Regions from separate parts of the Homo sapiens genome. Here region 1 is linked to region 2. Evidence: fine-mapped expression QTL. A gene starts in region 2. The other region holds a variant in brackets. All regions are shown on one strand. Distances are from middle to middle. Region 1 overlaps TRNAU1AP (tRNA selenocysteine 1 associated protein 1). Region 2 holds the start of RCC1 (regulator of chromosome condensation 1).

What was found.
Region 1: its variant is fine-mapped to the expression of RCC1 in whole blood (TOPMed, PIP 0.95).

Annotation. Positions count from the first base shown.
Region 1 is chr1:28,566,828-28,579,235 of GRCh38, reverse strand. It overlaps TRNAU1AP (tRNA selenocysteine 1 associated protein 1), which reads right to left. Exons shown (of 9, transcript NM_017846.5): 6 at 11,823-11,942; 7 at 7,898-8,060; 8 at 7,336-7,369; 9 at 691-1,736. The coding sequence ends at 1,600. It overlaps SNHG12 (small nucleolar RNA host gene 12), which reads left to right. Exons shown (of 6, transcript NR_146382.1): 6 at 556-698. It overlaps SNORD99 (small nucleolar RNA, C/D box 99), which reads left to right and starts at 414; the gene lies at 414-493. The variant C/T (reference allele first, on the strand shown) is at 6,140.
Region 2 is chr1:28,500,295-28,511,893 of GRCh38, reverse strand. It overlaps RCC1 (regulator of chromosome condensation 1), which reads right to left and starts at 5,851. Exons shown (of 13, transcript NM_001381865.2): 1 at 5,810-5,851; 2 at 3,734-3,766; 3 at 2,989-3,064. SNHG3 (small nucleolar RNA host gene 3) reads right to left here and starts at 5,951. Exons shown (of 4, transcript NR_036473.1): 1 at 5,810-5,951; 2 at 5,567-5,674; 3 at 3,734-3,766; 4 at 1,002-3,064. It overlaps SNORA73A (small nucleolar RNA, H/ACA box 73A), which reads right to left and starts at 4,529; the gene lies at 4,323-4,529. It overlaps SNORA73B (small nucleolar RNA, H/ACA box 73B), which reads right to left and starts at 3,336; the gene lies at 3,132-3,336. It also overlaps PHACTR4. RefSeq lists enhancers at 1-103, 585-634, 1,495-1,714, 3,786-4,551, 4,743-5,037 and 1 more.

The DNA.
Region 1 (12,408 bases), 67 kb before region 2:
TTGTATTTTTAGTAGAGACAGGGTTTCACCACGTTGCCCAGGGCAGTCTTGAACTCCTGACCCCAAGTGATCTGCCTGCCTTGGCCTACCAAAGTGCTAGGATTACAGGCATGAACCACTGTGCCGGGCCAGAAAGTCTTAGCATCTTAGTAACATTTACATTTGGCCTCCCTCGTGTGCCCTTAGCTATTCATTACCAGAGGGCAAAGATGGTTAGAACATGATTTACCCACCCTAAAATGCATTGAAGGCATCAGAGGGCACCGTGGGCCACAAGGCCTGGTAGCCACAAATGTTCAGTGGTGGCTGGAGCTCATGATGCATTCTTTGGTGGGACGTCTCTCAGCATTAGGGAGAGTTGAGAGTGGGGTAGAAACAAGGGGTTCCATGTAGCACACACTGTATTTAGAATGACTGGTCCAGGATGAAACCTAATTTGAGTGGACATCCATGGATGAGAAATGCGGATATGGGACTGAGACCAGCTCCTAGGAAAATGTCTGGGTGGGGGAAATCTGGGAATTAGTAACACAATGGCTTACACTTCCTTTGCAGGACAATCTCTATGGGAAGCAGAAGGCAAGGACCCCGGTCATTTTAGGTAGAAACAACAGCATGCTAATGCAAAAAATTATGCAGTGTGCTACTGAACTTCAGAGGTGATCAATAAAAGAAGAATAAAAAGACTAATAAAAGTATATTTGTGTTTGTATTTTTTTGTAGAGACCGAACTGGTCTCTTCCCGAGCTCAAGCAATCCATCTCCCAAAGTGAGCCACCATGCCCAGCCCTTAAAGAGATCTTTGGAGATTTTTTATGATGTAGGATGAATGCTTTGCCTCAAGCAGTAAGTCCCAACACATGACAAGGTTGGACAGTTTCCCCATTTACTTGGGAAACACGGAAGTGAGCAGTATAAAGTTCACACGGAGGGTCTGCTTTGGCTTTGAGCTATCTTCCTTAATCCTTTCTGAGCTGCCTTCTCCCGTGTCAAAATATTGATCCTAAAGTGATCCAGGCCTTGTATATGCAGATGCTGCAACTCATGAAAATAGATGAAACCCATTATTAGAGCAAGTACTAATTCTTAGGCCAACTGGCCTGTTCCATCACACCCCACCACATTCTACCTTCTGGGGCGTGCTCCTACCACACCTGCTAGAGTGCCTTTTCTACCTAGCTGCCAGACTTGCACCAAGTTAGGACTCAAATATGGCAGGTCCTACAAATACTCCAGAGAACCCTGATTTACATACCTACCTGTCAACTGAGAAACCTTGAACTCAGGCTTTAGTGTGTGAATTATCCCAAGCTGCTCATCCCAGTTTTGGATAATCCCAAACTGTCCTATGTGGATAACTACCTGGACAAAGGATTCCTGTGAAGGAAACCAATTTGAACCTTGTTTAAAAGTTGTTCCCTTGGTCTTCAAACTCAAATGGTCAAATGAATGCAGCAGTGTTGTAGAAACATTCATGATCTCCAAAAACAGTCATTATTAAAATCTTACAAATCATATTTCCAAAAAGGTTTCACAATTTTTAAAAAGGAGTCTCTCATCTCCCTCACATCATGCAACCTGGCTTGTCCTTTGGCCTGGCTACATCATGGCAGGGATCTCTGAAGACACTGTGTCCAGGGGCTGCCAGTGACAGTCCATCAGAGCGTCATACAGCTCCTCACTCTGTTCCATGAACTCCTTGTTGGCCTCAGTCACATCCAGCTGTGGCATGGGGTCTGGAAAGCAAGCAAGGATGGGGTCAGGGAAGTCTAGGGACAGCTGCAAGGGACCTGGTTCAGTTCCCTTCTCCCAGAACTCTGTTCTATGGTAAGGTCCCTATCCTGCCAGTTTCTTTCAGGAAGTGAAAGCACTGCCTTGCAGGGTTCTGGGGAAGATGAAAATAGAATAATGTATCTAGAGAATGGGAAAATGGCAGCTGTTAGCCTGCATCTATTAAAAGCTACACCTGTGTCTCTAGCCATCATGTATCCTAGATTTTCTGGTCTGGTCCTCACTTCAAATTTGGGTTTAGAAGGTCTGATCAAAGTTATTAAGTCCAGAGCATCATCTCAAGAACTGACAATAAGTGCATAGTGGAAGAACTTCAGTCAAATATAGGAGCTGAAAGGCCAAGTCCTGTATGTATGTATGTGTGTGTGTATGTACTTTAGAGAAAGGGTCTTGCTCTGTCACACAGGCTAGAGTACAGTGGCACACTTACAGCTCACAGCAGCCTTGAACTCTTAGGTTAAAGTGATCCTCCCGCCTTAGCCTCCCAAAGTACTGAGATTACAGGCATGAGTCCCTGTCCCTGGTGGTAAAATACTATTAAAAATTTTTTCTGCACAGTGGCTCATGCCCATAATCCCAGCACTTCAGCAGGTCGAGGCGGGCAGATCACCAGAAGTCGGGAGTTCAAGACCAGCCTGACCAACATGGAGAAATCCCATCTCTACTAAAAATACAAAATGAGCCGGGCATGGTGGCACATGCCTATAATCCCAACTACTCGGGAGGCTGAGGCAGGAGAATTGCTTGAACCCAGGAGGTGGAGGTTGCGGTGAGCCGAGATGGCACCACTGCATTCCAGCCTGGGCAACAAGAGCAAAACCCCGTCTCGGCCGGGCGCGGTGGCTCACGCCTGTAATCCCAGCACTTTGGGAGGCCAAGGCAGGCAGATCACAAGGTCAAGAGATCGAGACCATCCTGGCCAACATGGTGAAACCCCGTCTCCACTAAAAATAGAAAAATTAGCTGGGCGTGGTGGCAGGCACCTGTAGTCCCAGCTACTCGGGAGGCTGAGGCAGGAGAATCGCTTGAACCCGGGAGGCGGAGGTTGCAGTGAGCCGAGATCACGCCATTGCACTCCAGCCTGGGCAACAGAGCAAGATGCCATCTCAAAAAAAAAAAAAAAATTAGCTGGGCATGGTGACCTGTGTCTGTAGTGCCAGCTACTAGGGAGGCTGAGGCAGGAGGATCACTTGAGCCTAGGAGGTCGAGGCTGCAGTGAGGCATGTTCACATCACTGATCTCAAGTCTGGGCAACAAAGTGAGACTCTGTCTCAAAAAAAAAAAAAAACTGGGCACTGTGGCTCATGCCTGTAAACCCAGCACTTTGGGAGGCCGAGGTGGGCAGATCACAAGGTCAAGGGATTGAGACCATCCTGGGCAACATGGTGAAACCCTGTCTCTACTCAAATACAAAAAATTAGCCGGGTATGGCAGTGCACGCCTGTAGTCCCAGCTACTCGGGAGGCTGAGGCAGGAGAATCACCTGAACCCGGGAGGCAGAGGTTGCAGTGAACAGAGATGGCACCACTGCACTCCAGCCTGGCGACAGAGCAAAGACTCTATCTCAAAAAAAAAAAAAAAAAAAAAAGCCAGGCGCAGTGGCTCAAGCCTGTAATCCCAGCACTTTGGGAGGCCAAGGTGGGCGGACCACCTGAGGTCAGAAGTTTGAGACCAGCCTGACCAACATAGAAACCCCATCTTTATGGGGTTAGAAAAATAGAAATAGAAAATTAGCTGGGCATGCGAGATTGCGCCACTGCACTCCAGCCTGGGCGACAGAGCAAGACTCCGTCTCAAAAAAAGAAAAAAAGAAAATTAGCTGGGCATGATGGCGCATGCCTGTAATCCCAGCTACTCGGGAGGCTGAGGCAGAAGAATCACTTGAACCCGGGAGGCGGAGGTTGCAGTGAGCTGAGATCGCGCCACTGCACTCCAGCCTGGGCAACAAGAGTGAGACACCGTCTCAAAAAAAAAAAAAACAAAAAAAAACATTGGGCCTGGCGCAGTGGTTCACACCTGTAATCCCAGCATTGGGAGGCAGAGGCGGGCGGATCATGAGGTCAAAAGATAGAGACCATCATGGCCAACATGGTGAAACCCCATCTTTACTAAAAATACAAAAATTAGCTGGGCGTGGTGGCGCGCATCTGTAGTCCCAGCTATTCAGGAGGATGAGGCAGGGGAATCGCTTGAACCTGTGAGGCAGAGGTTACAGTGGGTCGAGATCGTGCCACTGAACTCCAGCCTGGTGACAGAGCAAGACTCTCAAGAAAAAGAAAACAAAAAAAGGATTAAAAAGAGATTGGAAAATTCTAAGGACTTATCTACAGATATTATGAGGCTAATTATCTCTAGAAAGAAGGCAATGTCTCCCAGGGGGAAACAACTAGAGACTTGAATATAAAAAGACCGGACTGTCCTGACTTTGCCCCACACTGTGTGACCCTCAGCAGATCACTTGGGCTTTCCGAGCCACTAGTTTCCCATCTGTGAAATGGAGCTCCTGTGTCCTTCCCAGCCCACCCCACAAGGTCACTACAGTTGGCATCACATGAGAGGACACAAGAAAGTGCTTTAAAATGTTATGAACTAGACAAGTTTGTTCATGCCCTAAAAGGGATCTGTTTCCTTTAACGAACATTTTCTTGACAGAAAACATTTTCCCTATGACTTTCTCTTGAAGACGAATCCTCAAAACAGATTTCAAACTTTGAGTCTTTTTGTACCTCAAAAAAAGTTTTGGCCAGGAGCAGTGGCTCATGCCTATAATGCCAGCACTTTGGAAGGCCGAGATGGGCAGATCACTTGAACCTAGGAGTTCAAGACCAGCCTGGGCAACATGGTGAAACCCTGCCTCTACAAAAAAATAGAAAAAAATAGCCAGTTATGGTGGGGCACAACTGTAGTCACAGCTCACTGAAGCCTCAACCTCCTGGGCCCAAGCAATCCTCCTGCCTCAGCCTCCCCCAAGTAGCTGGAACCACAGGCCACCATGCTTGGCTTTCAGTTTTTCTTTCCTTTTTCTTCTGTGAAATTCAGTGAAAATTATAAATACTTGGCCGGGCACAGTGGCTCATGCCTGTAATCAAAGCACTTTGGGAGGCTGAGGCGGGAGGATTACTTGAGGTAAGGAGTTCGAAACCAGCCTGGCCAACATGCTGAAACCCTGTCTCTACTAAAAATACAAAAATTAGCCGAGCGTGGTGGTGCATGCCTGTAATCCCAGCTACTCAGGAGGCTGAGGCAGGAGAATCACTTGAACCTGGGAGGCAGAGGTTGCAATGAGCTGAGATTGGAGACTGCACCACTGCACTCCAGCCTGGGTGACAGAGCAAGACTCCGTCTCCCAAAAAAAAAAAAAAAAAAAGAGATGGGGTCTCGTTATGTTGCCCAGGCTGGTCTCAAAGTTCTAGGCTCAAGCCATCCTCCAACCCACGTTGGCCTTCCAAAGACCTTACAGGCTTTAGCCACCGTGCCTAGACAGTAAATACTGTTGTTTTTTTTTTTGAGACGGAGTTTCACTCTCGTCACCCAGGATGGACTGCAATGGAGCATTCTTGGCTCACCGAAACCTCCATCTCCCGGGTTCAAGTGAGTCTCCTGCTTCAGCCTCCCAAGGAGCTGGAATTACAGGCATGGGCCACCATGCCTGGATAATTTTTTTTTTTTTTTGAGACAGAGTCTTGCACTGTTGCCCAGGCTGGAGTACAGTGGTATGATCTCGACTCACTGCAACTTCCGCCTCCCGGGTTCAAGTGATTCTCCTGCCTCAGCCTCCTGAGGAGGTGAGATTATAGGCGCGCAACACCACGCCTGGCTAATTTTTTTATTTTTAGTACCGGCAGAATTTCACCATGTTGGCCAGGCTGGTCTAGAACTTCCGACCTTAGGTGATCCTCCCGCCGTGGCTTCCCAAAGTGCTGGGAGTACAGGGGTGAGCCACCGCGCCTGGCAATTTTTTTATTTTTAGTAGAGACGGGGTTTCACCATGTTGGCCAAGATGGTCTCGATCTCTTAACCTCATGATTCACCCTCCTTGGCCTCCCAAAGGGCTGGGATTACAGGGGTGAGCCACCGTGCAAGGCTTAAATATTTTTAATTAAAAAATTAATAATGGGCTGGGCACGGTGGCTCACCCCTGTAATCCCAGCACTTTGGGAGGCGAGGCAGGCGGATCACGAGGTCGAGTTTGAGACTAGCCTGGCCAAGATGGTGAAACCCCGTCTCTACTAAGAATACAAAAATTAGCTGGGCGTGGTGGCATGTGCCTGAAATCCCAGCTCTTCGGGAGGCTGAGGCAGGAGAATCACTTGCACCCGGGAGGCGGGCTTGCAGTGAGATGAGATTG[C/T]GCCACTGCATTCCAGTCTGGGTGACACAGCAAGACTCTGCCTCAAAAAAAAAAAAAAAAGAAAAAGAAAAAATTAATAATGGCTATTACTATGTTGTAATAGGATATGGGGTGATTTTCAGTTTCATTATACTTTACTATATTTTCTTTTTCTTTTTTTTTGAGACGGAGTCTCGCTCTGTCTCCCAGGCTGGAGCCCATTGGTGCGATCTCGGCTCACTGCAAGCTCTGCCTCCCGGGTTCACGCCATTCTCCTGCCTCAGCCTCCCGAGTAGCTGGGACTACAGGCGCCCATCACCACACCCGGCTAATTTTTTCTATTTTTTAGTAGAGACGGGGTTTCACCGTGTTAGCCAGGATGGTCTCGATTTCCTGACCTCACAATCCACCTGCCTCGGCCTCCCAAAGTGCTGGGATTAGAGGCGTGAGCCACCATGCCTGGCCCATACTTTACTATATTTTCCAAATTTTCCATCCTAACGATGACTTAAAAATCAGGAAAATATGTCTTTTAAAATATATTGAAAAACAGAAAAAAAATAAAATAAATAAAAAATGAATTTTACAAACAGTCAAACAAATAAAAGGTAACAGTATTATCGGCCAGGCACAGTGGCTCATGCCTGTAATCCCAGCACTTTGGGAGGCTGAGGCGGGCGGATCACCTAAGGCTGAGAGTTTGAGACCGGCCAAGCCAACATGGAGAAACCCTGTCTCTACTAAAAATACAAAATAATTAGCTGGGCATGGTGGTGCATGCCCGTAATCCCAGCTACTCGGGAGGCTGAGGCAGGAGAATTGCTTGAACCTGGCAGGTGGAGGTTGCGGTGAACTGAGATCATGCCATTGCACTCCAGCCTGGCCAACAAGAGTGAAACTCCACCACACACACACACAAAAAAAGGGTAACAGTATTATCGTTAGAGGCCCACATACCAGGATAGAATGCCACATGTCAAGGGGGTGATGGGCTCTCCTGGAGCTGCCTGTCCCAGGCTCTCTGGGATCTACACTTACACCTCTGGGTAACACCCGACACATCTTACCATAATTACATATTTGTCTGGCTCTCTAACCAGAATGTAAGTTCTTCCAGAGCAGAATTTATCTTGTCTTCCCTCTAGCTGAGAGCACAGTGCCAGCCACAGCAGTCACCTGATAATGGCTGACAGAGTAAGGAACGTATGAACCCTTACCTTCCAATGCATCATCTCCAACTTCTTCATATGTCTGCCAAGAGACCAGAGATGTGGGTTAGGGGCATGGTGAAATCCTGGCCCAGGACCACAGTGGCTTATATTTTTTATTTTTTTTGAGGTGGAGTCTAGCTCTGTCACCCAGACTAGAGTGTAGTGGCGTGATCTCGGCTCACTGCAACACCCGCATCCCAGTTTCAAGAGATTCTCCTGCCTCAGTCTCCTGAGCAGCTGGGATTATAGGCGCCTGCCACTATGCCCAGCTAATTTTTTGTATTTTTAGTAGATACAGGGTTTCACCATGTTGGCCAGGCTGGTTTTGAACTCCTGACCTCAGGTGATCTACCTGCCTCGGCCTCTCAAAGTGCTAGGATTACAGGTGTGAGCCACTGGGCCCTACCCACAATGGCTTATTTTTAACAAGAGGAACTGGACTGCTTCAACTTTCCCTATTTTTTCTGAAGCCCAAGCCCCTGTCCTTACCAATCCCATCCTAGAGAATGACCTGTTTCTAGAGGAGAAACACAACCCAAGGGGACCAGTCTTGCCAAGTCATGGTTACCTGCATGGTGCTCTGGGTATAGCCATACTGGGGGTAACTGTAGCTGTAGCTGCCTGTGTTCTGGTCATAGCCCCACTGAGCATAGTAGTTCTGGTACTGCTGATAATACTGGTTGTAGCTATAACTGTACATCTGACTATATTCCACTGGCTTTACACGGCTCCTTAAATGAAGACAGAAACAAAAATAAGTGTAAGCAAACATTTCCGTAACACTGCCTATGTGGCCACAGACTATTTTAAGTGCTTTATACCGATTAACTTTTTTTTTTCTTGAGACAGAGTCTTGCTCTGTTGCCTAGGCTGGAGTACAGGGGCGCAATCTCGGCTCACTGCAACCTGCGCCTCCCGGGTTCAAGCGATTCTCCTGCCTCAGCCTCCTGAGTAGCTGGGACTACAGGTGTGTGCCACCACGCCTGGCTAATTTTTTGTATTTTCAGTAGAGACAGGGTTTCACCATGTTAGCCAGGCTGGTCTCGATCTCCTGACCTCGTGATCCGCCTGCCTCAGCCTCCCAAAGTGCTGGGAGCCCGGCCACCAATTAACTCTTTTAATCCTCAAAACAACCATATGCAATAAGTGTATCATTATTCCTATTTTACAGATAAGGAAACTGAGGAACAGAGAGGTTAAGTAATTTGTCCAAAGTCACACAGCTAATATGAGAGTATGGCTCCAGAGACCATGCTTTTAATACAGGAGATTTTAATGGATAGGTTTGTCTCTCTTAACAAACTATGTCAGGACTGGCAAAAGGATATCCTGTTTAAAAAAAAAAACAAAACAAAAAAGGGCTGGGTGCGGTGGCTCACACCTGTAATCCCAACACTTTGGGAGGCGAAGGCAGGTGGGTCACCTGAGGTCAGGAGTTCCAAGACTAGCCTGGACAACATGGTGAAACCCCATCTCTACTAAAAATACAAAAAATTAGCTGGGTGGGATGGCGCGCCCGCAATCCCAGCTGCTTGTGAAGCTGAGGCAGGAGAATCGCTTGAACCTGGGAGACAGAGGTTGCAATGGGCCTAGATTGTGCCACTGGACTCCAGTCTGGGCAATAAAAGTGAAACTCTGTTTCAAAAAAAAAAGAAAAGAGACAGACGTGGTAGCTCACGCCTATAATCCCAGCCACTTGGGAGGCTAAGGAAGGAGAATCGCTTGATCCTGGGAGGCCCAGCTAATTTTTGTACTTTTAGCAGAGATGAGGTTTCACCATGTTGGCCAGGGTGGTCTTGAACTCCTGGCTTCAAGTGATCCACCCAACTCAGCCTCCCAAAGTGTTGGGATTACAGGCGTGAGCCACAGCACCCCGCCTTTTGTTTTCGTTTTTTTTGTTGTTGTTTTGAGAGAGTCTTGCTCTGTCGCCCAGGCTGGAGTGCAGTGGCGCGATCTCGGCTCACTGCAACCTCCGCCTCCTGGGTTCATGCCATTCTCCTGCCTCAGTCTCCCGAGTAGCTGGGACTATAGGCGCCCACCAGCACGCCCGGCTAATTTTTTTTTTTTTTTTTTTTGGTATTTTTAGTAGAGACGGGGTTTCACCATGTTAGCCAGGATGGTCTCAATCTCCTGACCTTGTGATCTGCCCGCCTCGGCCTCCCAAAGTGCTGGGATTACAGGCGTGAGCCACTGCACCTGGCCTTTTTTTTTTTTTGAGATGGAGTCTCACACTGTCACCCAGGCTGGAGTGCAGTGGCACAATCTTGGCTCACTGCAAGCTCTGCCTCCTGGGTTCATGCCATTCTCCGGTCTCAGCCTCTCTGAGTAGCTGGGATTACAGGTGCCCGCCACCACACCTGGCTAATTTTTTGTATTTTTAGTAGAGACGGGGTTTCACCATGTTAGCAAGGATGGTCTCGATCTCCTGACCTTGTGATCCACCCACCTCGGCCTCCCAAAGTGCTGGGATTACAGGCATGAGCCACCACGCCCAGCCTATTTTGTTTTTTAAGAGACACGGTCTCACTCTGTTGCCTGGGCTAGAGTGCAGTGGAGTTATCATAGCTCATTGTAACCTTGAACTCCTAGGCTCAATCAATTCTCCCACTTCAGCCACCAGAGCAGCTGGGACTAGAGGAGTACACCAAGCCCAGCTAATTTAATGTTTTTATATAATAATTTATTTACAACAAATAACATTTTTGGGAGAAGTCACTAAGCCTGATCTTCAATGTATTAAACACAGTTAAACCATAAAGAACCCCTAAATCATTGCTTTCAAAAACATGGCTATTTGGCTGGGCGCAGTGGCTCACGCCTGTAATCCCAGCACTTTGAGAGGCCAAGGCAGGCAGATCACCTGAGGTCAGAAGTTCAAGACCAGCCTGATCAACATGTGAAACCCTGTCTCTACTAAAAATACAAAAATTAGCTGGGCTTGGTGGCACATGCCTGTAGTCCCAGCTACTCGGGAGGCTGAGGCAGGAGAATCGCTTGAACCTGGGAGGTGGAAGCTGAAGTGAGTCAAGATCACGCCACTGCATTCCAGCATGGGCAAAAGAGCAAGACACCATCTCAAAAAAAAAAAAAAAATAGTTCAACTACTCTTAGGGTAGAGTTTCTCAGCCCTGGATCTATTGACGTGGAGGGGTGGGTGGCTGTCCGATGAATTGCATGATGTTTAACAGTATCCTTGGCCGATACCCACTAGGTGCCATTAGTACATCCTTGGTTGTGATAACCAAAAATGTCTCCAGATGTTGTCAATGTCCTCTGGGAGGCAAAATCACTCCAGTTGAAAATCATTAATTTGGCTAAAGGATAAAAGATCTGGCCAGGCACAATGGCTTATGCCTGTAATCCCAACACTTTTGTAGGCCAAGGTGGGCAGATTGCTTGAGCCCAGGAATTCGAAACCAGCCTGGGCAACAAAGCAAGACCCTATCTCTACAAAAAACACAAAATTTGCCTAGCATGGTGGTGTGCACCTGTAGTACCAGCTAATCAGGAGGCTGAGATGGGAGGATCCCGAGCCTGGGGAGGTCGAGGCTGCAGTGAGACATGATCTCCAGCCTGGGTGACTTTGAGATCCTGACTCAGGGAAAAAACAAACAAACAAAAAATCCCATTCAGAGAAAAGTTTGGAGTTGTAAGGGAAGAAGATTTTCTACCTAGCATGACAGGTGTGATAGTGAAGTATATAATGTTCTGTAGAGTGTCTGGAAAATTTTTCTTTTTTATTTGAGACGGAGTCTTGCTCCGTTGCCCAGGCCAGAGTGCACTGATGCCATCTCGGCTCACTGCAACCTCCGCCACCCAGGTTCAAGCGATTCTCCTGCCTCAGCCTCCCGAGTTGTTGGGACTACAGGCATGCACCACCATGACTGGCTAATTTTTGTATTTTTAGTAGAGATGAGGTTTTGCCATGTTGGCCAGGCTGGTCTCGAACTACTGACCTCAGGTGATCCGCCCACCTCAGCCTCCCAAAGTCCTGGGGTTACAGGTGTGAGCCACTGCGCCCGGCCAAGTGTCTGGAATACTAATTCTTATCCATTCCCACAGCATGGAACACTCATAGGAGGGCTGTAGTTTCATTAATATAAATAAGGCTAAAAATGGAAGTAATTTTTTCCCCTTTATTCAAATCTTATTAATTCTATGAATAAGTTCCCAACAATGGGACTACTGGGCAAAGAACAGGGACATCAGGTATGGACAGCCAAACAGCTTTTCCAATGCTGTCACCAGTAATGTCTGAATACATCAGCCTTTCCAAATCATACTCTATCCCCAACTCTAAGTTTCTGCAGGAGTGGGGCTAGTTCAACCCCAGCACCCACAGCCTGGCAAACAGCAGGCATTCAGTACTTGTGACTTGAATTGGATCCCCTTCAGCCTCCCATCCAGCGTATGGATGCCCTGATTCTCAGCAAACAAAAGAGGAGTGTCTGGAGGGGAGTCTAGAGTCTCTCTACCTTCCCTGCAGGACTCACGCTTTAGGGATTGCCACGCTCAGCCGCACAGGCTTAGACCCCAGTCCCACTGCTCCCTGGCACTCCGTCAGGGCTCGCTTCTGTTCCAGTTCATCTGTGAATTTCACAAAACCATAACCCCTGCATGAAAAAAATATACAATTTAGATCACAAATGTGATTAAAGTCTAAGAATGGACACATGAAAAAGAAGTAAGGATAAGAAGGTGGGCAGGAATGTAGAAAGGAAAAGAGGCTGAGAAGAGAAAGAGAGAGTCCATTAAACTAGAGGAAGAAAGGAGAGTCCCATCAACAGGTGTCCACATAGTGTCAAGATCCAAGTACAAACAATTCTAATATCTGCAGGAATTCCCACATTCAGTTCACCATCCTCCTCGACACCTTCACCCCTAGGGAACATTCCCAAATAGGAGCTTCCCCGACACCCTGCTGGAAAGTAACTCATAGAAGAAAATTCAGCAAATATTTACAGTCTGCCCTGTATGCCAGGCACTGTGCTACGCACAGGATGCAGCAGTCACAGAAAGACAACGTTCCTGCTCTCCTGAGCTCAAATTCTAGCAGAGGAATAAATTAATGCAAGCTAA
Region 2 (11,599 bases):
TCAGGAGTTCGAGACCAGCCTGGCTAACATGGTGAAACCCGTCTCTACTAAAAAATGCAAAAAAAATTAGCCGGGCATGGTGGCGTGCGCCTGTAATCCCAGCTACTTGGGAGGCTGAGGTGGGAGAATTGCTGGAACCCGGGAGGTGGAGGTTGCAGCAAGCCAAGATGGCTCCATTGCACTCCCTCCTGGAGACAGAGTGAGATTAGATCTCAAAAAAAAAAAAGCTGGGCATGGTGGCTGACGCCTGTAAACCCAGCACTTTGGGAGGCCGAGGTGGGCGGATCACGAGGTCAGGAGATGGAGACCTTCCTGGCTAACATGGTGAAACCCCTTCTCTACTAAAAATACAAAAAAATTAGCCGGGTGTGGCGGCGTGCACCTGTAGTCCCAGCTGCTGGGGAGGCTGAGCTTGCAGTGAGCTGAGATTGTGCCACTGCACTCCAGCCTGGGCGACAGAGCGAGACTCCCTCTCAAAAAAAAAAAAAAACAAAAAACAAAAAATTGGATACTGTATCCTTGGTTTCTGAGAAGTCACAAAAGAATGTTATTTAATAAGTGATCATGCTGCTGCACTCCATCTAGAGACCCTAAGAATCTTTTCACAAATACCAACTCCTTTGTCCTTATTACAACTCTATGAGGTAGTTTATCACTTATTTTGTGAACATGAAATTGAGGCAGAGGGGCTGAGTAACTCACCCAAAGTCTCATGAACAGCAAGTGGTGGGATCAGGATTCAAACCCAGTCTAGTACTCCTAAGATAGGCAACCAATACTGTCTGCCTACACAAAGAACAAGGCCAGAAGTGCCTGTTTGGAAAGTCTAAAAAAGGGGTATTGCAAGCTGAAGTTTAGCAGAGTGGGACCTGAACACCTACTGACAGCTTTGCTTCACCTCTACCTTGCAAGTCAATAGAAATTCATTCATTTCCTGCCCAGCACTGCAGTTACCCAAACCCACCTGAGTATATGGATTGAAAACATACTAAAACCACTGGTTCAGAAAAAAATCACTTTACTCAGGTGAGATCTATGTAGTTACAGCAGGACACGGATGGGACTGGGCATACAGACGAATGGGGCTGACTCATCTGGCTTCTTCCTGAGCAGGGAATTTGATGCTTGTTTCTGCAGAGGTGCCACTTCTAGTTGTGGACTTGGACAATTAGTCTTTTGGTTCCTGGGATTCCCCATTGGAATATGCTGTATTAAAGCCCACTTAGTGCTTACCTAGAACAGTGCCTGGCACAGGTAAGCACAAATACAATTGCTTTAGGAAGATGCCTTTTTTTTGAGACTTAACTCTGTCACCAGGCTGGAGCGCAGTGGCAAGGTCTCAGCTCAGTACAACCTCCATCTCCCGGGTTCCAGCAATTCTGCCTCAGCCTCCCACAGGTGCACACCACCATGCCCAGTTATTTTGTATTTTTAGTACAGACAGGGTTTCACCGCGTTGGCCAGGATCTCTAGATGTTGTGATCCGCCTGCCTTAGCCTAAGTGCTGGGATTACGGGTGTGAGCCACCAAGCCTGGCTGCATTTAACATGCCCTCTTAAACACTGCCTCACTCCTCTTAGCTTGTAAGAAAAATCAAGCTGTGTTCCCCCACAATCATAGCTAGTAACTAGCTTCCATTCTCAAACCAACCCTGACCTCAACACCTTGGCAAGCAAGCTCTACAGTCCACCAAACTCCAATCTCACCCACCTCCCTCAAACCTGTCTCCATCAAGTTCCAAATGGCTTAACGGCTGTCCCACCTCCCCTATGCCAGTAGGTAACTTTACCTTCTAGATGATCCCCCTTCAGTCCCATCCTTCAGGGTACTGAACATTTATGTTGGCAGCCAGTGCAGGGGGCTTGACAAAGTTTCCATTGTGACTCACGTCATGAGGCAAGCAATTCTGGCAATCTTCAGGCGGAGGTGCGCCAGGTAGTAGAGGCTCATACAACTCATCAGCTAGGGATACAACCTCCCGTTGCTACCATCGATTTTTCCTCCACTACACTGCAGGAAGCTAAAGAATCGGTCTAACTCATCTTGCACTCAACCCAGACTTACGGTCCTATTGGTCAGGACCTAATATCCATTTTCCCAATAAACTGCCAATATAAAGTGAACCCAAGGGGGACCCACCTGAGACTAGGTTTCAGGGCCTTTAGAACTGAAGCTATCATGCTAGTTTCCTTCAACAGTACCATTCAGATTCTTGGCTGATGTCACCACAGCCACCTCCACAAAAATGAACCACAAACATGCAGTCGTATTTATTTTAATTCATAAATACATTAACATAGCAGATTAGGCAATTTGTTAGGTAAATTACAAATACATTAGAAATCATACAAAAGTGGCCGGGCAGGGTGGCTCACAGCTGTAATCCCAGCACTTTAGGAGGCTGAGGTGGGCGGATCACGAGGTCAGGAGTTGAGAACAGCCTGGCCAATATGGTGAAACCTCATCTCTACTAAAAATACAAAAATTAGCCAGGTGTGGTGCTACACGCCTGTAGTCGCAGCTACTTGGGAGGCTGAGGCAGGAGAATCGCCTGAACCTGGGAGGCGGAAGTTGCAGTGAGCAAGATCATGAAAAGCAAAATACTCAAGGACTTTTAATATAACCACCAACACAGTGTGCCTTCTGGCCAAGCAGAGTCACTTCTGTGGTTCTTAAAGTATGAATGAGGTGAAAGAATGTGCATTCCTAGCTAAATGCCAAATTCCAAAGCCTTTAGTACAAAAACAGCAGACTTTCTGCAAAACAGGTCGACTTTTAAAAGAGGTATGAGGGCTGGGCGTGGTGGCTTATGTTTGTAATCCCAGCTACTTGGGAGGCTGAGGTTGCAGCCAAGATTGCGCCACTGCACTACAGCCTGGGCGACAGAGCAAGACTCTCAAAAGGAGGCATGAAATGCACCTCAATCTTTTGCTCCAAGTCTGCCAAAGATTGTCAAACCCTCCCTGTTAAAAAAAAAAATCAGTTTACCTACTCTCCCTTCTATATAAAGGACCCTAAAATTAAATGTCAATGCCAAAATGCGAAGTGCAGATCGTCTTCTCTCCTAAAAGAAAAGAAATAATGATTAGACTCCTGAAGATCCTACTTCAACTTAAAATCTAGTATACTAGATATGTTTCCTGCATGGTTTGTCTCCCCAGTCATTGTCCACAGGACTCTGGGAAGCTGTAGGAATATGCAGGCGCAGACACGAGGCCCAGCTTCATCTTCAACGTTGTGGAAAGGGACTGTACATCATGGGGCAGAGCCCTAAGCTCCCCTATGCCACTTGGACAGAGCCTGGGGAGAGTGACCTCCCAGGGTATCCACGTTGGAATGCTCATTAGTGAGGAATTGGAGTAACCGACAAATCCAATATTGCTAATCACCCACAGTATTTTCAAGGGCTAGTATCTTTCTCAGCTCAGGCTACACATGTAGATAAAGCCAATTAGGCTTCCTACAGTTCACTAGGGCAGCTTTTACTACTTTGCACTTTTAATGAGCTGACTAAAAAAAGCAATTTTTACAGAACAGAGCATATGTTGAAGTTATGTCAACATGCCTACAAAAATGCAGCAAAGTCGATATTTGGCTATTGCTCTGAGAATGATTAAATGCCTCAGAGGTAAATCCTGACCAACTAGAATAAAAGTCTCTTCAATCCTATTTCCATTACAGAAATCATTGACAAAGAGCTGATAAGCAAAAAACAATTAGCAGATTTACTCACCAAATAAGAGTTACTTGGAATCCTTAACAAATCCTGCAAAACAAGATATTAATCTATTAGTACAGCAAAACCCTAAACTTTTTCAACGAGGGGCCTCATGCTATCGCCTGGGGTTGGAGTACAGTGGCACTGGAGTATAGGTTTGAGTATAGGTCACTCCTGGGCTCCAGCGATTCTCCTTCCTCCAGCTACCTATCATCATGCCTGGCTACTTTTTAGCCAATTTTTCTTAAACATGTATTAAGACTTCAATCCAGCCAGGTGTGGTGGCTCACGCCTGTAATCCCAACATTTTGGGAGGCCAGAGGCTGGCGGATCACAAGGTCAGGAGTTTGAGACCAGCCTGACCAACATGGTGAAACCCTGTCTTTACTAAAAATACAAAAATTAGCCTGGCGTGGTGGCGGGGGCCTGTAATCCCAGCTACTCAGGAGGCCAAGGCAGGAGAATCACTTAGCATAATCACTTGAACCCGGGAGGCAGAGGCAATGGAGTGCGCCACTGCACTCCAGCCTGGGCAACAGAGCGACTCCATCTCCAAAAAAAAAAAAAAAAAAAAAGACTTCAATCCAGATTCAGTGCTCTAGAAGGCTGTTTCCTGCATGGTTTGTCTCCCCAGTAATTGTCGACAGGACTCTGGGAAGCTGTAGGAATATGCAGGCGCAGACACGAGGCCCAGCTTTATTTCCAACGTTGTGGAAAGGGACTTGTACATCATGGGGCAGAGCCCTATGCTCCCCTACGCCACTTGGACAGAGCCCGGGGAGAGTGACCTCCCGGGTGTATCCACGTTGGACAATCAGTGTAACGCATAAATTTACAGAATCCAATAGGAAACAATTTCATCCATTCATGTTACTACAGATCTTAAACAAGAAAGCAAACGAGTTTCCACCCTGTCCACAGTGGGGTGTTAAAAAAAAATCGGTTTCTAGACTGGTAACATGCATATTCAGCTATTCTAATTACTTTACAATAGGCGGTTAGTACTATGTGGAAGGTACCGCAGAAGCAAAGACAACAATTAGGCCCAGCTATCCTAAATTCAAATGAAACACGTGGACTTGTTAATTACCCCCAAATCGGCCAGGCACGATGGCTCACGCCTGTAATCCTAAAAATATAAAAATAAAAATGACCCAAATCACAAAAATACGAGAAAGCATAATTACGAAACGCAATGCTTCCAAATTATGAAAATCTTCGGCCTGGCGTGGCGGACCACAAGGTCAGGCGTTGGAGACCAGCCTGGCCAACATGGTGAAATCCCGTCTCTACTAAAAATACAAAAATAAGCCAGGCGCGGTGGTACACGCCTGTAGTCCCAGCTACTCGGGAGGCTGCGGCAGGAGAATTGCTTGAGCCCAGCAGGCGGAGGTTGCAGTGGTGCGATCAAATAAAAAGAAAAATTGAGAAAATTCTTAAAGGCAAATGAGGATCCAGAATAAAACTGTGTGCAATTATATTGAGAACGACAATGTGCCTACTATGAGGCAGTAAGATAAACAGTGGGGGTGGCGGTGCACCTTCAGAGGCTCGCTGGGTCGGGCGGCAGCCCTGCGGGTCCCGAGGTCTCCATGGCCCACTTCTGGCCCAGGCCCGTCTAACGCGTACTTTAGAGTTGGGACCGATGCCGCCTAAGACACCCATATATAGTTTTAAATTACATGATTTCCGGCCAGGCGCGGTGGCTCACGCCTGTAATCCCAGCACTTTGGAAGGCCGAGGGTGGTGGATCACCGGAAATCAGGAGTTCAAAACCAGCCTGACCAACATAGCGAAACCCCGTCTCCACTAAGAATACAAAAATTGGCCGGGCGTGGTGGCACGTGCCTGTAATCCCAGCTGCTGGAGAGGCTGAGGCACGAGAATCGCTTGAACCCGGCAGGCGGAGGTTGCAACGAGCACTGCAGTCCAGCCTGAGTGACAAACCGACTCCGTCTCAAAAAAAAAAAAAAAGTAAATAAATAAAATACTATATGATCTTCCTAGGGAAGCTCGGCTACTGATCTATAGCATTAGACCCACAACTCCGGTGGCAAGCATCTGATCACACTTACCAAGGATCACACTTACCAAGGAGAAGAAGCGACCACTGCGAATCTGTCTCCAAAAAGGAGAGAGAAAACGCGAAGCATCCTTTTTAAACCTTACGAAGTGCCCGGAAGTCCTGGAATGTCTATTGCGCGTGCGCAGAAGCATGCGCAGTTAGAGAATCAGAAACTCACTGAGGCTTCTGGGAATCTACTGCAGATTGAGCCCCACCCCTTCCTGGCTGGGAGGCCTCTCGCGGTAGTGGATCCTTCCCGCGGGACCTTGCTGGGGAATGTACGTTACAGAAATAGGTTTGTAGGTATGTAGCTGCAGAGGACGTTTACTTCTGTGCAATCACTGGACTCAGTCTGTAGGATATGCCCTTAGATAAACTGGCCAAAAAGTTTTTGGAAGAGTCGAACGCGGTGGCTCACGCCTGTGATTACAGCAGCTCTGAAGGCCGTGAGGGGCGGATCGCTTGAGGCCAGGAGTTCGAGACCGGCCTGGGCATCATGGCGAAACCCCGTCTCTACAAAAAATACAGAACATAAGCCAGGCATGGTGCCGCGCACCTCCAGTCCCAGCTACTCGGGAGGCTGAAGCATGAGAATCGTTTGAACCTGGGAGGCGGTGGTTGCAGTGAGCCGAGATCGCGCCGATGCACTCCATCCTGGTCGACAGAGCGAAACTCTCTCTCCAAATAAATAAGTAAAACGTTGGAATAATAAGAATGCAGAATGAAAAAAATACATATAGAGAAATACGGAGTATCAAAAGGAATTGAATCTGCTCTGTCACCTGTGAAAGAAATAATTTGATAAATGTGAAGGTAAATAAGATGAAAGTGCCCCTAGACGAATCAGATAAAAGTTTAAAAACTCCAGGCCTGGCCCGGATAAAAATAAATAAAAATAAAAAATAAAAAACTCCATTGCACAACAGTGTGAATGAATGTAATTAAAAGCACTGCCCTATACTCTTTCTTTTTTTTTCGAGATGGAGTTTTGCTCTGTCACCCAGGCTAGAGTGGAATGGCGCGGTCTCGGCTCACTGCAACCCCGGCCTCCCGGGTTCAAGCGATTCTCCTGCCTCGGCCTCCCCAGTAGCTGGGATTACAGGCGCCCGCCACCGTGCCTGGCTAATTTTTGTATTTTTAGCAAGACGGGGTTTCACCATCTTGGCCAGGCTGGTCTCGAACTCCTGACCTCAAGCAATCCACCCGCCTCGGCCTCCAAAGTGCTGAGATTACAGGCATGAGCCAGCGCACCTGGACTTTTTTTTTTTTTTTTTTTTTGAGACGGAGTCTCGCTCTGTCGCCCAGGCTGGAAGGAAGTGGTGTGATCTCGGCTCACTGCAACCTCCACCTCCCAGGTTCAACCAGTTCTCCTGCCTCAGCCTCCCGAGTAGCTGGGACTATAGGCATGCCACCATGCCCGGCTAATTTTTGTATTTTTAGTAGAGACCGGGTTTCACCATGTTGGCCAGGCTGCTCTCGAACTCCTCACCTCAAGTGATGCCCGCCTTGGCCTCCCAAAGTACTGGGATTACAGGCCTGAGCCACCACACCTGGCCCCCTATACATTTTAAACTAGTTAAAAATGGCAAGTTTTATGTATATTTTACCACACACAAAACCCTCTGAATATGAAGTAGGCAAGTAAAGAATGCTTACGATATATATACATAAGAAATGTTGCAAATATGATGGAATTTTTAGTGTGGTGTAAGGTGGAAAAACGTTGGCTAGAGAGACAGAGCTATCACAGCTGGGCTATCTTGAGTAGTAACGTTTATGGTGTTCCTCCTACATATTAGATTTTGTTCTGAATGCTTTATTACGTACATTATTTACTATCGCAGCAATTCTTTTTTTTTTTTTTTTTGAGATGGAGTCTTGCTCTGTTGCCCAGGCTGGAGTGCAGTGGCTCGATCTTGGCTCACTGCATTCTCTGCCTCCTGGGTTCAAGCAATTCTCCTGCCTCAGCCTCCCGAGTAGCTGGGACTGCAAGCAAGTGTCACCATGCCCCACCAATTTTTGTATTTTCAGTAGAGACGGGGTTTCACCATATTGGCCAGGGTGGTCTTGAACTCCTGACCACGTGATCTGCCCGCCTTGACCTCCCAAAGTGCTGGGATTACAGGCATGAGCCACCGTGCCCGGCCTACAAATTTTTTTTTTTTTTTAGATGAAGTCTCACTCTGTCCCCCAGGCTGGAGTGTAGTGGTGCGATCTCGGCTCACTGCAACCTCCGCCTCTCAGGTTCAAGCAATTCTCCTGCCTCAGCCTCCTGAGTAGCTGGGATTACAGGCGCCCGCCACCATGCCCAGCTAATTTTTGTATTTTTAGTAGAGACGGGTTTTCAGCATGTTGGTCAGGCTGGTCTTGAACCCCTGACCTCATGATCCACCTGCCTCGGCCTCCCAAAGTGCTGGGATTACAGGCTTGAGCCACTGCGCCCGACCCCGGCCTACAAAATTTTAAAAAAAATGTTAGCTGAGTGTAGTGGCACATTCCTGTAATCCTAGCTACTTATGAGGTGTGAGGATCACCTGAGCCCAGGAGATGGAGGCTGCAGTGAGTCGTGATCATGCCACTGCACTCCAGCCTGGGCAACAGAGCAAGAACCTATCTCAAAAAAAAAAAAAAAAAAAAAAAAAAAAGACATTTCTGATGTAGGGTTTGTCGTCCCACTGGAATTGCAAGGTAAGAGAAGAACTTGAGGATACCAGAGTTTCAGGCTTAGGAGGCTGAACATACTATGGTCTCTAACCTTGATAAGTGGAAATGCAGGCAGTGGGGGAGGAGTAATGTCCACATTGGAGTATATACGAGTTACCTGAGTAACATCTGGTTGTATATAAGTCCAAAGAGCAATTAGATATATGGGGTTGGGCTTCCTGTAAGAAATCTGAGTTGGTGATAAAATATTTAGAAGTTGTAAGAATTAGCATGGTGGCTAAAGTCGTCTTGGAAGAATGAGGAGAGTGATGGGAAGACATGAAACCCCAGCATTTATTTTATTTTGAGACAAGATCTCGCTCTGTTGTTGAGGTTGGAATGCAGTGGTGTGATCAGGACTACTGCAGCCTGGACCACCAGGGCTGAAACGATTCTCTCACCTCAGCCTCTTCTGAGTAACGGGAACTAGAGGCATGCACCACCATGCTCAGCTAATTTTTTAAATTTTTGGTAGAGATGGCCTCTCACTATACTGCCCGGGCTGGTCTTGAACTCCTGGCCTGAAGCGATCTGCCAATCTTGGCCTCCGAAAGTGCTGGGATCACAGGCATGAGCCACCACACCCGGTAAAACACAGCATTCATTTATTTTATTTTATTCATTTATTTTTGGATGGAGTCTCACTCTTGTCACCCAGGCTGGAGTGCAGTGTTGTGATCTTGGCTCACTGCAACCTCTGCCTCCCGGGTTCAAGCAATTCTCGTGCCTCAGCCTCCCAAGTACCTGGGACTACAGGCACATGCCACCACACCCAGCTAATTTTTTTGTAGTTTTAGTAGAGATGGGGTTTCACCATGTTGGCCAGGTTGGTCTCGAACTCCTGACCTCAGGTGAACCACCTGCCTCGGCCTCCCAAAGTACTGGGATTACAGGCGTGAACCATCGCACCTGGCCGAAAACCCAGCATTTAAATGGTGTTCGAGGAAGAAGCCAGCAGCACAGAGAAAGGTCAGTCAGGGAAGGAGAACCAGAAGACAGCGGTGCCTCAGAAGCCAAGGAAGAAGAGTTTTGAGGACTAGAACATTGTCCAAAGCACCAAATGTTGCAAAGCAGCCAAGTGCAATAACCGAAGGCTGAGAAATCCCTGGTGACCACAGGAAAGCCATATTGGTTTGGATTTCGTTTAGATTTTAATGAGCTGAGTGAATATGGCCTTAGGTAGGGAAAACAATGTGCACAGACCAGAGGTTATGAAGCAAGGCCAAGAAGCCTGTTCAGTTTACATCTCCATCACTAGTTCTTCCTCTGTCAATCATTTAGCCCAGCTGCCTGGCCTGAGAACTTGGGTTGTTTAACATTGGAATAGATTGTGTGAAGGGAGTATAGGAAAAGCAGGAGAGAGGGTAATAGATTGAAGAGAAATTGGGGTCACGGGAAGATTGTGTCTTTGTTGCGGGTGAGGGTAGGAAGGAGGTAAGCATTAAATAATTTATTTAATGCTCCCCCTCCCACAATCCTCACTGAGGACTGTGTGTCCTCAGTGCCAAATGAAGGAACATTAAAGCTGTTTGTTCCTGTCAGATGACCTCTATGCTCTACATAGGAGGCAAAATTCTTTGGGGAAGAAATTAACAATATCCACACAAAATGACAGATGGAGCAAGAGGTCTGGGTTGCTGGTCATTCCTGGTTTTCCCTTCATGCCTCCTAGGGCTGAAATGGAATAGAACGTTGAAACAGTGGTGCTGGCTGTATTTTGGCTTCAAGGATAGGATTTTCTTTGTTGCACATTGTCATCTTTTTATGCTTATTATTTCATCCTTTGCCTATTCAGTGTCCATTGGACCTGCTCCTCTTTTTTCAAGAGACAAGGTCTATGTTGCCCAGGCTGGTATTGAACTCCTGGGCTCAACTGATCCTTCCACCTCAGCTTCCCAAGCTGCTGGGACTACAGGTGTGCATCACTGCACCGGGCTGGACCTGCCTTTTCCTGGGGTACAGTTATATAAATCCACAGAGACCCAAAATTCATTCATTGTTTTGGCAAACACTGGGCAATCTTCATCTTCAAAACAGCTTTCTGGAGACAATTTAACCTCAAAAGGGCAATAGCAATTTGAGGCTTCTTTGGAGGGCTAGTAGAAGGACAATCTGGAAGCAGGTGGACACAAGGAGTTCTGACTCATGGTTTCTTTTAACTCTTGGTAAAGGGTGGTGCACTAAACAAGGCCAGTCTCTTAAGTGACAAATAGAAGTGAGTCATTGCTGAGGCCACCTGGACTGAAACTGGGCTGCTTGCTGGAAAAGATAACATGAAGTACTAAGTGTCCTGGGCCGGGTGCAGTGGCTCATGTCTGTAGTCCTAGCACTTTGGGAGGCTGAGGCAGGCGGATCACCTGAAGTCAGGAGTTCCAGACCAGCCTGGCCAACATGGTGAAACCCCGTCTCTACTAAAAATACAAAAAATTAGCCGTGGGTGGTGGCAGACGCCTGTACTCCCAGCTACACAGGAGGCTGAGGCAGGAGAATTGCTTGAATCCGGGAGGCAGAGGTTGCAGTGAGCCGAGATCATGCCACTGCACTCCAGCCTGGGTGACAGAGCAAGGCTCCGTCCTGGGGAAAAAAAAAAAAAAGAAAAAGTACTAAGTGTCCTTTTGTAATGTCATCTTGGGGGTCCAATTATATGTGGTTAATATAAATTCTTTTTTTTTTTTTTTTGAGACGGAGTTTTGCTCTTGTTGCCCAGGCTGGAGTGCAGTGGCGCGATCTCAGCTCACTGCAACCTCCGCCTCTTGGGTTCAAGTGATTCTCCTGCCTCAGCCTCCCGAGTAGCTGGGATTACAGGCATGTGTCACCACGCCTAGCTAATTTTGTATTTTTAGTAGAGATGGGGTTTCTCCCTGTCGGTCAGGCTGGTCTCAAAGTCCTGACCTCAGGTGATCCGCCTGCCTTGTCCTCCCAAAGCGCTGGGATTACAGGTGTGAGCCACTACACCTGGCTTACATATCATTTTTAAGCTGGATTTAATCTTTTGGGATAGAGTGTAATGTAAAAGAAAATACCTCACACCAGAATAGTATAGTTGGTATTTAAAAATTCTAAAATATTTAATAATTAATATTGATGAGAAGACTGATATACAATGCAATTAT